Linked DNA regions of Homo sapiens: region 1 is linked to region 2. Evidence: fine-mapped expression QTL. A gene starts in region 2. The other region holds a variant in brackets. All regions are shown on one strand. Distances are between the middles of the regions.

Region 1 (8,325 bases), 25 kb before region 2:
TCTCAACTCACTGCAACCTCTGCCTCCCTGTTTCAAGCGATTCTCATGCCTCAGTCTCCCAAGTAGCTGGGATTACAGGTGTGTGCCACCATGTCCAGCTAATTTTTTGTATTTTTTTTTTTTAGTGGACGTGAGGTCTCACTATGTTGGCCAGGCTGGTCGCAAACCCCTGGCCTCAAGTGATTTGAAAGCCTCCGCCTCCCAAAGTGCTGGGATTAGAGGCATAAGCCACTGTGTCCAGCCTTATACACTCTTTCTTTCTTTTTTTTTTTTCTGTCACCCAGGCTGGAGTGGAGTGGTGTGATCTCTACTCACAGCAACCTCTGTCTCCTGGATTCAAGTGATTCTCGTGCCTCAGAGTAGCTGGGACTATAGGCACGCACCACCACAAGCAGCTAATTTTTATATTTTTAGTAGAGATGGGGTTTCGCCATGATGGCCAGGCTAGTCTCGAACTCCTGGCCTCAAGTGATCCGCCCGCCTCAGCCTCTCAGAGTGCCTTATACTCTTTCTTTCTTTCTTTTTTTTTTTTTTTGAGACGGAATCTCACTCTTGTAGCCCAGGCTGGAGTGCAATGGCGTGATCTCGGCTCACTGCAACCTCCACCTTCCAGGTTCAAGCAATTCTCCTGCCTCAGCCTCCTGAGTTGCTGAGATTACAGGTGCCTGCCACCACACCTGGCTAATATTTTGTAATTTTTTTTTTTGTAGAGACAGGGCTTCACCATGTTAGCCAGGATGGTCTCGATCTCCTGACCTCGTGATCCGCCCGCCTCGGCCTCCCAAAGTACTTGGATTACAGGTGTGAGCCACCGCGCCTGGCTGCCATATACTCTTTCTCAAGACCTCTTCTCTTGAGCCTAGGGATGGTTCCCCTCTTGCTTACTCAACGACAACAATCCAGCCACTTTCCTCTCTTGCTTCTCTTCTGGAATCTAGAAATCCAGATCATTCCCATCAGCACATGAACCAGCTGTTTGATCTTCTCTGCTCTTCTGACCTTTCTATCAAAAGAATTGACTTTTAGCTGGGCATGGTGGCTCATACCCATAATCTCAGCACTTTGGGAGGCTGAGGTGGGAGGATCACTTGAGCTCAGCAGTTCGAGGCTGGATTGAGCTACAACGGTGCCTCCACTCCAGCCTGGGTGACATAGTGAGATCCTGTTTCTACAAAACATTTTTTTCTATTTTGAGACAGAGTCTCGTGATGTCACCCAGGCTGGAGTGCAGTGGCGTGATCTTGGCTCACTGCAGCCTCCGCCTCCTGGGTTAAAGCGATTCTTCTGCCTCAACCTCCCTAGTAGCTGAGACTCCAGGTGCCTGCCACCACACCCGGCTAATTATTGTATTTTTAGTAGAGATGGAGTTTCACCATGTTGGCCATGCTGGTCTTGAACTCCTGACCTCAGGTGATCCGTCCGCCTCAGCGTCCCAAAGTGCTGGGATTACAGGCTTGAGCCACCATACCCAGCCTACAAAACATTTTTAAAAATAATAAACCAGGCATGGTAGCACACGCCTGTAGTGAGCCATGATGTCACCACAGCACTCCAGTCTGGGTGACAGAGTGAGACCCTGTCTCAAAAAAAAAAAAAAAAAAAAAATTAACCCTGTACCTGGCCGTAATGAATCAACAATTGGAAGCTGTGTTATTATAAAGACGGGTGAACATATGGGCCCCTTTGCTGGTCCCCATCTGGCCTGGCTCTCCTGTTCTCCACCCTGCACACTCATGCCTGGGAACCTGCGTCTCCTCTCAGCCTCCCCAACGGCGGCCCAACCCACATGGCGTTTGATCTGCCCACTTCAGAGCCTTCACCTCCGGCCTGCAGCCCATCAGAGGCGGCTGGATCCCGGCCTCCTCCCCACATGGGCCTTTGAGGATGGGATGAAAGAGGCTAGGCTGAAACCAGTGTGAATGGCCAAACGGGGAACTCAGGAATCCCTGGTGCTACGCCCAGGAACAGAGGTGCGCGGCGGGGAGGCAGAGCAAGGGATGCTTCTTGGGGCTTGCTGGCAGTGCCAGAATGACCTGGGCATTTACCGACCACCTCCTGTGTGCTCAGGCCTGTGCTAGGTGATGCTGAGGACATAGTGGTGACTGGCCTGGCCGTCAGAGGGCTCACAGGCCAGCGGAGCAGATAGGCCAGTGCCCCAAGAGCAACAACCTAGTGGGAACAGGGCTGGGATGGGAAAACCTAGTTGATGCAGTCAAGAAGGGCTTCCTGGAAGAGGAGGTTCTTAAGTTCTTCACAGAGTCTATGATGCCCATCTCAACCTACCTCTTCAGCCACATCTGATGACACTTCCCCACAATCCCTTGAATCCAGCCACCCTGTTCCTTCTAATTCTTTTCATTTTTGTTTATTTATTTATTTTGAGACAGAATCTCGCTCTGTCGCCCAGGCTGGAGTGCAGTGGCGTGATCTCGGCTCACTACAACCTCCACCTCCTGGGTTCAAGCAATTCTTTTGCCTCAGCCTCCCAAGTAGTTGGGATTACAGGCGCCCGCCAACATGCCCAGCTAATTTTTGTATTTTTAGTAGAGACGGGGTTCCACTATGTTGGCCAGGCTGGTCTTGAACTCCCGACCTCAGATGATCCACCCGCCTTGGCCTCCCAAAGTGCTGGGATTACAGGTGTGAGCCATGGCCCCTGGTCTCCATCTGATTCCTGACCACTTCAAGTTCATTCTCACGTCTGGTTCATTGCACTTGCTATTTCTTTTGCCAGCTTCTCTCTTCTCAGTCCCTCATCAGGCAGGTTCCTTATCCTCACTCAGATTGCAGACGAATTCTTCTTGCAGCACTGAGCTCTTTCAAAAAATTGTCTTGGCCAGGTGCAGTGGCTCATGCCTGTAATCTCAGCACTGTGGGAGGCTGAAGCAGGAGGATCCCTTGAGCCCAGGAGTTTAAGACCAGTCTGGGCAACATAGTGAGACCTCATCTCTACAAAAAAATCAAAAAAATTAGCTGGGCATGGTGGTGCACGCCTGTAGTCCCAGCTACTCAGGAGGCTGAGTTGAGAGGATTGTTTGAGCCCAGGAGTTCAAGGCTGCAGTGAGCTATGATCACACTGCTGCACTCCAGCCTGGGTGATGGGGTGAGACTCTGTCTCTAAAAATAAATTTTAAAATAGTTCTCTTATGTCAAGTGCTGGGGCTCACACCTGTAAACACTAGGATTTTGGGAGGCTGAGGTGGGAGGATCACTTGAGCCCAGGAATTTGAGTCCAGCCTGAGGAAAATAGCGAGACCTCATCTCCAAAAACAAATAGGCCAGGTACGGTGGCTTAAGCCTGTAATCCTAGCAGTTTGGGAGGCCGAGGTGGGCAGATCACCTGAGGTCAGGAGTTCGAGACCAGCCTGGCCAACATGGTGAAATCCTGTCTCTACTAAAAACAGAAAAAACTAGCCGGGTGTGGTGGTGCACACCTGCAATCCCAACTACTCAGGGGACTGAGGCAGGAGAATCACTTGAAACTGGGAGGTGGAGGTTGCAGTGAGCTGAGATTGTGCCACTGCACTCTAGCTTGGG[C/T]GACAGAGTGAGACTCTGTTTCAAAAATAAATAAATAAATAAATAAGAAAGATAAGCTTTTGGCTGGGCACTGTGTCTCATGTCTGTAATCCCAGACTTTGGGTGGCTGAGGCAGGAGGATCACTTGAGGCCAGGAGTTCGAGACCAGCCTCGCCAACACAGGGAAACCCTGTCTCTACCAAAAAATATAAAAATTAGCCAGGCGTGGTGGCGGGCGCCTGTAATCCCAGCTACTCAGGAGGCTGAGGCAAAAGAATCACTTGAACCCAGGAGGCAGAGGTTGCAGTGAGTGGAGATCACGCCCTGCACTCCAGCCTGGGTGACAGAATGAGACCCTGTCTCAAAAATAAATAAATGAATGAATGAATAAATAAATAAATAAATAAATAAGCAAGCTTTTAAATCAAGCCCATGAACACTGTAGAAAAAAAAAAAAAAGAAAAGAAAACATTCCCTTGTTTGCAGTCTCTGTTGACTCCTTTATTTCCTGCCTTCTCCACTACAATGTAGCCTCTCCTAACCCTGTGTTCCCCAATCCCTGGCAGGGTGCCCGACACAGGGTTGACGTCCGGCAAATATTTGTTAGATGAAGGAAGGATCCAAGATCTCCAGGAGAAAACAGGGTTTGGTGAAGAGGTGGCGGGGGCGGGGATGAGGGCAGAGAGTTCCAGGCACCCCGATTCAAAAATGAGCAAAGGACTTGAATAGACATTTCTGCAAAGAAGACATACAAATGGCCCATAATGCACACGAAAAGATGCTCAATGTCATGAATCATCAGAGAAATTCAAATGAAATCTACCAGGGAACAGCAGGGGCAAAGGTGTGGAGCAGAGAGAGGGTTGGTGTTTTGGGGGCCCTGGAGGAGGTTGTGTCTCGCTGAAAGGAGGGAGGGTGGGAGAGGCAGTGGGAGGAGGAGGGGTTGGAGGGAGGAGGAGGGATAGGAGGGAAAGAGGGAGAGGAGGGAGAGGAAGGGAGAGGACAGAGGTGAGAGAGAAGGAGGCGGGGAGGAGAGAGGAGAAGGGTGGAGGTGGAGGGCCAGATGTGAGTCAGCTCCCACCCTTACAGACCTAGTGCGAAGGAAAGATCGAGAGTTTTTATCCACCAGACATTTGGGGATCATTTTGGGTAGGGGCAGAGGTGGTGGAGGAGATGCCTTTCCGGGAAACCCTGAAGTTGGCTTAGAGAGGAGGGTGCTGAGGGACAGGCCGCCCCCGCCAGAGCCTTCTAAGGACTTTCTGCACAGCATTCCACCACGGGGCCTTCTGGGACAGGCTGTGACTGCCTGGCAGCCCCGGCCGTCCCCACTCCCGGGTCACCGCTCCGGCCTCCTCACGCCTGGACTCACCCTCCTCCTTCCCTGCTCCCCACGGTAGCCCGAGGCTGGCACTTTTTATAGAACACTTCAAAAAATGTTAATAGGTAATTGAAGTCACATGGCTCATTTCTACAGTCACAGGAGGGGACACAGTGGAAAAACCTTCTCCTCTCCCCTGTTCCCTCCCCTCCAGGCCCCTCCTGGGAGGCACTGCGACCTCCGCTCAGCTTCCTTCATCCCATCCTCAAAGGCCCACGTGGGGAGGATGCCCGGCTCCAGCTGCCTCTGATGGGCCATAGGCCGGAGGTGGAGGCTCTGATGTGGGCAGATTAAAGGCCACGTGGGCCGGGCCACTGTGAGGGAGGCTCAGAGGAGAAGCAGGTTCCGAGGCATGAGTGTGCAGGGTGGAGAACAGGAGAGCCAGGCCAGGTGGGGAACCAGCAGAGGGGCCGGTTTCTTGTGTTTTCTCCCACAGAGAGTCACAGACTGTCTAGCAAATGCAAGCGCAGGTGGAGAAATGCTGCCCAGGTCATTCACATGTGTCTGCAACTTTCATTTATTTAATTTATTTATTTATTTGAGATAAAGTTTTGCTCTTGTCAGTCAGGCTGGAGTGCAACGGCACGATCTCAGCTCACTGCAACCTCCACCTCCCAGGTTCAAGCGATTCTCCTGCCTCAGCCTCCCAAGTAGCTGGGACTACAGGCATGTGCCACCAGGCCCAGCTAATTTTGTTTTCTGTTTTTGTTTTTGTTTGAGACTGAATCTTGCTCTGTCACCCATGCTGGAGTGCAGTGGTGCGATCTCAGCTCACTGCAACCTCCGCCTCCCGGGTTCAAGCAATTCTCCTGCCTCAGCCTCCCGAGTAGCTGGGACTACAGGCGCGCACTACCACATCCAGCTAATTTTTGTATTTTTAGTGGAGACAGGGTTTCATCATGTTGGCCAGAATGGTCTCGATTTCTTGATCTCGTGATTTGCCCACCTCGGCCTCCTAAAGTGCTGGGATTACAGGCCTGAGCCACCTTGCCTGGCCTCATTTATTTATTTTTGAGACAGGGTCTCTCTGTCTCTCTGTCTGTCACCCAGGCTGCAGTGTAGTGGCACAATTAGGGCTCACCTGCATCCTCCAACTCCTGGGCTCAAGCCATCCTCCCACCTCAGCCTCCTAAGTAGCTAGGACTATAGGCGTGCACCAGCACACCTGGCTAATTTTTTTTTCAAGAACCAGTATTTATTATCAAAATCATATTCAATGTCAAGAAGACACCATAACTACAAAAAAAATTGCGCACAGTGCAATCTCAAGGCAAACAGTCAAATGGAACACCAGTCATTTAAAAAAGTAATTAAATTAGCCCAAAAAGCAACTGGTTTTTTTTTTTTTTTTTTTTACCATCTTTTTCTTTTTTTTTTTTCTTTTTGAGATAGAGTTTTGCTCTTGTCGCCCAGCTAGAGCTCAATGGCACGATCTCTGGCTCACTGAAACCTCTGCCTCCCTGGGTTCAAGCTTTTTTAACATCTTTATACATCCAGCCAACAAATTAAAATGGTTAACAAGTGGTCTGGCGTGGTGGTTCATGCCTATAATCCTAGCACTTTGAGAGGCCAAGGTGTGTGGATCACCTGAGGTCAGGTGAGACCAGCCTGACCAACATGGTGAAACTAAAAATACAAAAAAAATTAGCCCCGTGTGGTGGTGAGTGCCTGTAGTATAGCTATTTGGGAGGCTGAGTCAGGAGAATTGCTTGAACCTGAGAGAGAGAGTTTGCAGTGAGTTGAGACTGTGCCACTGCACTACAGCGTAGGCAACAGAGCGAGACTCTCTCAAAAGTAAATAAATAAATAAATAAATAATAAAATGATTGGCCAGGCGCGGTAGCTCACACCTGTAATCCCAGCACTTTGGGAGGCTGAGGCAGGTGGATCACGAAGTCAAGAGTTCGAAACCATCCTGGCCAACATGGTGAAACCCCGTCTCCGCTAAAAATACAAAAAAAAAGAAAAAAAAATTAGCTGGATGTGGTGGCACGTGTCTGTAATCCCAGCTACTCAGGAGGCTGAGGCAGGAAGATCGCTTAAACCAGGGAGTTGGAGGTTGCAGTGAGCCGAGATTGCACCACTGCACTCCAGCCTGGCAACAGAGCGAGACTCTGTCTCAAAAAAAAAAAAAAAAAAAATTAAAATGCTAAATTAAAAAAAAAAAAAAAAAGCTGCCAGGCGCTGTGGCTCATGCCTGTAATCCCAGCACTTTGGGAGGCTGAGGCAGGCGGATCACAAGGTCAGGAGATCGAGACCATCCTGGCTAACATGGTGAAACCCCTGTCTCTACTAAAAATACAAAAATAAAAATAAATAAATAAATTAGCCGGGCGCGGTGGCGCGTGCCTGTAGTCCCAGCTACTCGGAAGGCTGAGGCAGGAGAAGGGCGTGAACCCGGGAGGCGGAGCTTGCAGTGAGCCGAGATCGCGCCACTGCACTGAGCCTGGGCGACAGAGCGAGACTCTGTCTCAAAAAAAAAAAAAAAAAAAAAGCCAGTGTGGTGGCTCATGCCTGTAATCCCAGCACTTGGGAGGCCAAGGCGGGTGGATCACTTGAGGTCAGGAGTTCGAGACCAGCCTGGCCAACATGGTGAAACCCCATCTCTACTAAAAATACAAAACTTAGCCAGGCGTGGTGGCACATGCCTGTGGTCGCAGCTACTTGGGAGGCTGAGGCACGAGAATCGCTTGAACCCAGGAGGCAGAGGTTGCGGTGAGCTGAGATTGCACCACTATACTCCAGCCTGGGCGACAGAGTGAGACTGTGTCTCAAAAAAAAAAAAAAGGAAAAGAAAAATAAAAAGGTTAACAAGAGGGCCGGGCACAGTGGCTCATGCCTGTAATCCCAGCATTTTGGGAGGCCAAGGGTGGGCGGATCACCTGAGGTCAGGAGTTCGAGACCAGCCTGACCAACATGGAGAAACCCTGTCTCTACTAAAAATACAAAATTAGCCGGCATGGTATTACATACCTGTAATCCCAGCTACTCAGGAGGCTGAGGCAGGAGTATCTCTTGAAGCCGGGAGGCAGAGGTTGTGGTGAGCCGAGATCGCGCCACTGCACTCCAGCCTGGGAGACAAGAGCGAAACCCTGTCTCAAAAAAAAAAAAAAAAAGTTAACAAGAAAAAATACAAATTCAGAGGTCTGGTATTGATGTTTAAAAAAGGCAACTGCTTAAGCATTTCTATTTATTTGAACATCAGTCTTGGCCATTCAGCTGCATGTTGTTCATTATCCGGCAGACTCTCTCAGCCACCTCTGGGGACGTAAACTTAACCACACTGCACCCCTTGGACTTCCCGTTCTCCATTTCGATGTCAGTGTACAGCATGTGGCCATACTCGTTGAATTTGTCCTTTAGCATCTTCCATGTAAAATTGAATGGGAGATTTCTTACAAATATTTGGCATGCCTTCCTGGCCATGCCCA
Region 2 (8,312 bases):
CTCAGCCACTCGAGTAGCTGGGATTACGGGTAGGTAGCACCACGCCCCGCTAATTTTTGTATTTTTAGTTGAGATGAGGTTTCACCATGTTGGCCAGGCTGGTTTTGAATTCCTGGCCTTGAGAGATCCACCCACCTCAACCTTCCAAAGTGCTGGGATTCCAGGAGTGAGCCACTGCTCCCGGCTCCTCATCTGTTTTTCTCAGTGTTTGATAAATATTGGCCAGATGAGTCATCACAACGATCCCATGTCAGCTCATGGGCATCCGTCTCCTTCTATTTGATGTCTCTCAGTCTTCTATTCTGTGGATGTGGTTTGTTGAATGAATGAATAAATGAATCACCAAGCGGACAGATGCCTAGCTGAAGAGTGGTTTTCATCCTGAGGGAGGCCACTGGGGCTGTTCAGAGAGTAGGGGTGGCCCAGTTAGATCTGTGCTTTGAAATATTCCAGACTCTTCTGAAGTCTGGGATTTTTTTTTTTTTTTTTTTTTTAGACAGAGTCTTGCTTTATTGCCCAGGCTGGAGTGCAGTGGTGCAATCTTGGCTCACCGTAACCTCTGCCTTCTGGGTTCAAGTGATTCTCCTGCCTCAGCCTCCAGAATAGCTGGGATTACAGGCGTGTGCCATTAGTCCTGGCTATTTTTTTTACTTTTTATTTTCAGAAGAGACAGGGTTTTGCCATGTTGGCCAGGCTGGTCTGGAATTCCTGGTCTCCAGCAATCTACCCGCATTAGTCTCCCAAAGTGCTGGGATTACAGGCGTGAGCCACCATGCCTGGCCAGAAGTCTGGGATTTTGCATGTGCTATTCTCTTTGTCTGGAATATTCTTTCCCTGGGATTGGTCCAACTCCTTCATATCCCAGCTCCGATGCCTCCTCCTCCAGGAAGCTCTCCCTGACCCCCAAGCCTGGTCAAGCATCCCTTCTGGGCTCCCCCATCCCAGCCCTGCCCACTCTGTATCATCACTATCTGTGTCCCCCCCTGAACTTTGAGTCCCAGCAGAACGGGGCCAGAACTGTCTTGTTCGCCACTGGGTCCCTGGTATCACCCATCGCAGGACCCAACACTGGGCTCAGAATACATGACTGTCCCTTGAAGGAAATGTCTAGTTGGAGACAGCCGAGTGCAGGGGTAGCCAGGGTGTCTGATAGGAGATGCAGACAAGGATCAGAAACATCTGAGTTCAGATTTCTTGCTTATGCCTGGGGTTTGGGCCACAGCAAGCCTCATTACCCTTATCTGCTTCCAAATCAGGAAAATGGGAGTGTGAGCTGGTCTCCTGGATTAGTGGGGATAAAACCATGTCTGTGAGCACTGCTAACAGAGATGGAAACCTCTCTGTTGCCTCAGGGCTTCACACGCGTCCTTTGAATGTTTCCACATTATGCCATGGGCTCCTTCTTATCTTTCAGATCTCAGTGCAGATGTCACTTCCTTCCAGTGGCTGAACTGTTCACTCTGTCACTCATAGGATGCTTTTGCTTTCTCCCAACGCTTAGTTCCAGCTGACAGCCCAAGTTTATTGTCTTGTCTCTTCCGCACTAGAATGCACGCTCTAGCAGCCAAGGATTTTGTGTGTGTGTGTGTGTGTGTGTGTGTGTGTGTGATACAGAGTCTGGCTCTGTTGCCCAGGCTGGAGTGCAATGGTGAGATCTCAGCTCACTGCAACTTCTGCCTCCCAGGTTCAAGCGATTCTCCTGCCTCAGCCTCCCGAGTATCTGGGATTACAGGCGTGGACCACCACACCCGGCTAATTTTTTAGTATTTTTAGTAGAGATGGGGTTTCACCATGTCGGCCAGGCTGGTTTTGAACTCCTGACCTCAAGTGATCCGCCCGCCTCGGCCTCCCAAACTGCTGGGATTACAGGTGTAAGCCACTGCACCCGGCCAAGCCCAAGTTTATTGTCTTGTCTCTCTGCACTAGAATGCAAGCTCTAGCAGCCAAGGAATTTTTTGTTTTTTTGTTTTTTTTTTTGATACAGAGTCTCACTCTGTTGCCCAGGCTGGAGTGCAGTGGTGTGATCTCCGCTCACTGCAACCTCTGACGCCTGGGTTCAAGCAGTTCTCCTGCCTCAGCCTCCCAAGTAGCTGGGACTACAGCCGCCCGCCACCACGCCCAACTAATTTTTGTATTTTTAGTAGAGACAGGGTTTCACCATATTGGCCAGGATGGTCTCCATCTCCTGACCTCATGATCTGCCCACTTAGGCCTCCCAAAGTGCTGGGATTACAGGCATGAGACACTGTGCCTGGCCTATTTTCATGTTTTTGTATTTTTAGTAGAGATGGGGTTTCACCATGTTGGCCAGGCTGGTCTTGAACTCCTGACCTCAAGTGATCCACCTGCCTTGGCCTCCCATAGTGATGGGATTACAGGCGTGAGCCACCGCTCCCAGCCTAAATCTTTTTTCCCTTTAGACTGAGTCTTGCTCTGTCACCTAAGCTGGAGTGCAGTGGTGAGATTACAGCTCACTGTAGCCTTGACCTCCTGGCTCAAGCGATCCTCCCGCCTCACCCTCCTAAGTAGCTGGGACTATTGGCGCATACCACCACACTCAGCTTATTTTTTAATTTTTTTGTAGAGACGGAGTCTCGCCATGTTGCCCAGGCTGGTCTCAAATTCCTGGGCTCAAGTGAGCCTCCCACCTTGGCCTCCCAAAGTGCTGGGATTAAGGGTGTAAGCCACTGTGAAATTTTTTTTTTTTTTTTTTTTGAGACGGAGTCTCGCTCTGTCGCCCAGGCTGGAGTGCAGTGGCGTGATCTCGGCTCACTGCAAGCTCCGCCTCCCGGGTTCACACCATTCTCCTGCCTCAGCCTCCCGAGTAGCTGGGACTACAGGCGCCCGCCATCATGCCTGGCTGATTTTTTGTATTTTTAGTAGAGACGGGGTTTCACCGTGTTAGCCAGGATGGTCTCGATCTCCTGACCTTGTGATCCACCCGCCTCGGCCTCCCAAAGTGCTGGGATTACAGGCGTGAGCCACCATGCCCGGCCGAAAAATTTTTTAAAATATTTATTTATTTATTTTGAGACGGAGTCTCACTCTGTCACTAGGCTGGAGTGCAGAGGTGTGATCTTGGCTCACTGCAACCTCCACCTCCCGGGTTCAAGCGATTCTCCTGCCTCAGCCTCCTGAGTAGCTGGGACTACAAGTGCATGCCACCATGCCCAACTAATTTTTGTATTTTTAGTAGAGACAGAGTTTCACCATATTGGCCAGGATGGTCTCGATCTCCTGACCTCATGATCTGCCCACTCTGGCCTCCCAAAGTGCTGAGATTACAGACATGAGCCACCATGCCTGGCCTATTTTCATGTTTTTAAAGATAAGGTCTCACTATGTTGCCCCGGATGGAGTCTAGTGGCTAAATGTGGGCACGATCATAGCTCACTGCAGCCTTGAACTCCTGGCCTCAAGGGATCCTCCTGCTTTAGCCTCCCAAATACCTGGGACTACAGGTGCATGCCACTGAATCCAGCTTGTTCTTCAGTAATAATAACAATAACAGCAATCGCAGCAGTAGTATTTGACTTTCTTCTGAAGGGCATTTTTGTTAGAAACAAAAGAAGAGAGAAAGAACAAAAAATTTTAAAGCACAAATAAATAACTTTTTTTTTTTTGAGGTGGAGTCTCACTCTGTCACCCAGGCTGGAGTGCAGTGGTGAGATCTCGGCTCTTCGCAACCTCTGCCTCCTGGATTCAAGCAATTCTTCTGCCTCAGCCTCCTGAGTAGCTGGGATTACAGGCATGTGCCACCACACCCAGCTAATTTTTGCATTTTCAGCAGAGACAGGGTTTTGCCATGTTGGCCAGGCTCGTCTGGAACTCCTGACCTCAAGTGATCTGCCCGCATCAACTCCCAAAGTGGTGGGATAACAGGCGTGAGCCACTGCGCCCGGCCGTATTATCTCATTTGAACCCTTGCAACACTCAAGGCGGTATGACTTATTATTATTCCCATTTACACATATGAAGACTGAGCCTCATAGAGGTTGTAAATTACCTGAGGCCTCACAGCTGCTGTAGGAGGAAGCTTCTGACATTACCACTACAATCTTTGAGCAAGCATGAAAGCCTGAAATGTCACAGAACAGGCTAGAGATGGGAAAGGAATGAGGATTTCAACACTGTCAGGTGGAGTAAGGAATCATAATTCATTGTTAACCTCCCAAACGGCCACTAACAGAGAATTTGGGGAGGCAGCAGAGTGGGTGCGGTTAGGGGCTTGGGAGGTGGGCATGCACGTGTCATCCTCTCTAGGTGTGGCCTCAAGGTGAATGACTTCCTCTGCCTCTGGGGTTCAAGCGATTCTCCTGCCTCAGGCTTCCAGTAGCTGGGATTACAGGCACGTGCCACCACACCAGGTAATTTTTGTATTTTTAGTAGAGACGGGTTTCACCATGTTGGCCAGGCTGGTCTCGACCTCCTGACCTCAAGTGATCCGCCCGCTTCACCTCCCAAAGTGGTGGGATTACAGGCTTGAGCCACGGCTCCCTAAATAAATACATCAATTTTATTTAAATCTTACAGCAATCATATGAGACAAAAGCTTTTAACACCTGCACTTTATATTCGAGGAATTAAAGTTCTCAGAGGCGACTAAAGACCAAACTCAGGGCTGAGGAGTTCCAAAGCTGAGTTGAGTTGCAAATGAATCACCGAGGACCACCGGAGCTTTCTAGCGACCCTCGCACCAGGGAACGAACCCCTGTGGTTTAAGGGCTCCAACCCACAACCCAGTTCCTTTGGCGGGAAACAGCACCCTCCCAAGGCCCCGCCCCTTCCTGGCCCCGCCCCGTCGTCTCTGGGCCCGGCTCCTGGAGATGGGTATTATTAATCTGCCTTCTATGGGGGACCTGGCCCATCTCGGGTATCAGCCCCGCCCCTACTCGTCCAGTCTCCGAACGCTCTGCAGCCAATCGGCGCCCGAGGGTCGGTCCCCGCCTTCTCAAGCCCCGCCCCCTACCCTTATCCCTGGCAGCTTCCGCTAAACGGGCTCAGAGCCACGCGGCACGCCCGGGAGGCTTTCTCTGGCTGGTAACCGCTACTCCCGGACACCAGACCACCGCCTTCCGTACACAGGGGCCCGCATCCCACCCTCCCGGACCTAAGAGCCTGGGTCCCCTGTTTCCGGAGGTCCGCTTCCCGGCCCCCAGATTCTGGCATCCCAGCCCTCAGTGTCCAAGACCCAGGCAGCCCGGGTCCCCGCCTCCCGGATCCAGGCGTCCGGGATCTGCGCCACCAGAACCTAGCCTCCTGCAGACCTCCGCCATCTGGGGGCACTCAACCTCCTGGAGCCAAGGGCCCCACGTCCCACCCAGAGAAACTCTCGTATTCCCAGCTCCTAGGGCCAAGGAACCCGGGCGCTCCGAACTCCCAGCTTTCGGACATCTGGCACACGGGGCAGAGCAGAGAAGCCTCAGCGCCCAGCCTGGGGAATTTAAACACTCCAGCTTCCAAGAGCCAAGGAACTTCAGTGCTGTGAACTCACAACTCTAAGGAGCCCTCCAAAGTTCCAGTCTCCAGGTGCTGTTACTCAACTCAGTCCTAGGAACGTCGGGTCCTGGGAAGGAGCCCAAGCGCTCCCAGCCAGCTTCCAGGCGCTAAGAAACCCCGGTGCTTCCCATCATGGTGGCCGATCCTCCTCGAGACTCCAAGGGGCTCGCAGCGGCGGAGCCCACCGCCAACGGGGGCCTGGCGCTGGCCTCCATCGAGGACCAAGGCGCGGCAGCAGGCGGCTACTGCGGTTCCCGGGACCAGGTGCGCCGCTGCCTTCGAGCCAACCTGCTTGTGCTGCTGACAGTGGTGGCCGTGGTGGCCGGCGTGGCGCTGGGACTGGGGGTGTCGGGGGCCGGGGGTGCGCTGGCGTTGGGCCCGGAGCGCTTGAGCGCCTTCGTCTTCCCGGGCGAGCTGCTGCTGCGTCTGCTGCGGATGATCATCTTGCCGCTGGTGGTGTGCAGCTTGATCGGCGGCGCCGCCAGCCTGGACCCCGGCGCGCTCGGCCGTCTGGGCGCCTGGGCGCTGCTCTTTTTCCTGGTCACCACGCTGCTGGCGTCGGCGCTCGGAGTGGGCTTGGCGCTGGCTCTGCAGCCGGGCGCCGCCTCCGCCGCCATCAACGCCTCCGTGGGAGCCGCGGGCAGTGCCGAAAATGCCCCCAGCAAGGAGGTGCTCGATTCGTTCCTGGATCTTGCGAGGTCAGCTCCCGCTCCCCCGGGAGGTGGGGAAGAGTGTTACGGATGGCGGGAGTGGTCACGTGGACAGGACGGGGCTTTGGGGCCCCTGGAGCAGAGACTTCCCTCTAGAGTCTTAGGAAAACTCGACAGGATATTGAGGGGAGGCTCCAGCCCTCGGGAGTGTGAGTCTAGTCTCCTGGGGAAGGGGTTTCTAAATCTGGGGGCCTGGGTACATAAGTGGGGTCTTATAGAGGGAGAAGAAAGTGATTTGGGGAGACATAGGAGGGTCTGCCTAGGGGAGAAAGACACTGAGGGGAGGGGACCCCAGGAGGAACTTTTGCGGGGGGAATCTTTGCGTGGTCAAGGGCCCCAAGATGGGGCTTCTAGATATAATTTGGGGCCAGGGTTGGAGAGTTTGGGTAAGGAGCCCCTGGAGGATCTGAGATCTGAGTAACTCCCACCAGGCCCTCTTCCCAGCCCTGGGGCACCCCCACACCACGTGTCACTCGGACATAACCAGGCTCTGTTTTTGGCCTCCGCTTCCCGCCCATTTCAGCTGGGGTCTGGCCGCTTCCCCTTTATCTTTTAGATCAGCCCTGCCACCCCTGCCTTTCCCTCCCGTTTCCTCCTCTGTCTGGGCCACCCCCTAGCAGGCAGCCCAGAAGAGGACCAGTTAGAAAGGGGAGCAGATTCTTTTCCTTCTCCTGGCCTCTGCCCCGCGCCCCCAAGAATGGCCTCCCCCACTTTGAGGAGGGCGGGGGGCAGAGGCCCCCTTGCGCTTGCCTTTAGGGCTTGCTCATTCAGTGTCTCCACGTTGGGGACTTCCTGGAAGTTGGGGGAAGGAAATGATGAGTCACGGAACAGGGTTCTCCAGCCTCTGGGGCGTCAGTGCAGGCTGAGATGCGAGACTGGGGCAGGCTTGGTGTCCCGAGTTGAAGCCTGGGAGCACCTTCTGGCTGGGGGAGATTAGCTGGGTCCTGGCCCAGCCTGGGCCTGGGTGGTACAGGCGGACCTTCAGGCAGGCACACCCACTCCGAGGCTGTTTATGAGCACAGGCCTCCCCTGCGTGCCAAAACAGCTGTAGCTCACACTTGGCCTGCCACACAGGCTTATAACCAAATGACATACAGCTGGACACATTCACGCAGACACTCAGCTGAGGCTGTAGCATCTCGACAAACACATGGCCAGATACCAGCGGTCATACACACGCTCACTGTGTACTAAGACCCCTGTAGCACAGCCATTCAGTGATGCCACCAGCCACGCCAACATCTAAACACAGGCTCAAGAGCACACAATACACACTCACATACACACCTATGTGGTCACACACCAATAAACTCATGCTTTTTTTTTTTTTTTTTGAGACAGTCTCTGTTGCTCAGGCTGGAGTGCAGTGGTGCGATCTTGGCTCATTGCAACCTCTACCTCCTGGATTTAAGTGATTCTCGTGCCTCAGCCTTCCGTGTGCCACCACGCCTGGATAATTTTTGTGTTTTTAGTAGAGACGGGGTTTTGCCATGTTGGCCAGGCTGGTCTCGAACCCCTGACCTCAAGTTATCTGCCCACCTCAGCCTCCCAAAAGGCTGGAATTACTGGCGTGAGCCACCGCACCCGGCCAAACTCATTCCTCTACCATGACGTTATTTTACTGTACCGTGATGCATGGGTGGCCATCCATGGACACTGTCCCATACTACTGAACCTTAACCTGCACCCAAACTATTAACATTTGACAGATTGTATATGGGCACATGGCGTTGGCTGTACACCAGTCATTGGTGAGAGGGAGCATGTGGAGTGCTTGGGGCTATGGAGCCAGCTGGCTGGGTTCAAATCCCAGCTCTGCTATTTCCCAGCTGGGCAATTTTCTTTACCCTTCTGGGCCTCAGCTTCCTTTTCTGTAAAATGGGGTAATAGTGATTATCCCCAAGGCTGTCGTGAGGATGAAATGGGTTAATTTGTGTCAAGCACAGGCCAAAATGCCTGCCTGCCACACGGTAGGTGCTGTAGATGGCTTAGCTGCTATATATATTTTTTGAGAGAGTCTCACTCGGTCCCAGGCTGGAATGCAGTGGCTTGATCTTGGTTCACTGCAGCCTCAACCTCCTCGGGCTTGAGTGATCCTCCCAC

What was found. PIP is the estimated chance that this variant, and not a neighbour inherited with it, causes the effect.
Region 1: its variant is fine-mapped to the expression of SLC1A5 in whole blood (INTERVAL, PIP 0.98).

The regions. Positions count from the first base shown.
Region 1 is chr19:46,809,928-46,818,252 of GRCh38, reverse strand. It overlaps the pseudogene HNRNPMP2. Among named protein-coding and RNA genes, the nearest start is that of SNAR-E, 17 kb to the left of the region's middle. The variant C/T (reference allele first, on the strand shown) is at 3,538.
Region 2 is chr19:46,785,285-46,793,596 of GRCh38, reverse strand. SLC1A5 (solute carrier family 1 member 5) reads left to right here and starts at 5,003. Exons shown (of 8, transcript NM_005628.3): 1 at 5,003-6,197. The coding sequence starts at 5,632. RefSeq lists silencers at 4,686-4,845, 5,816-5,865, 5,876-5,925 and enhancers at 4,791-5,085, 4,734-5,335, 7,142-7,743, 7,744-8,312.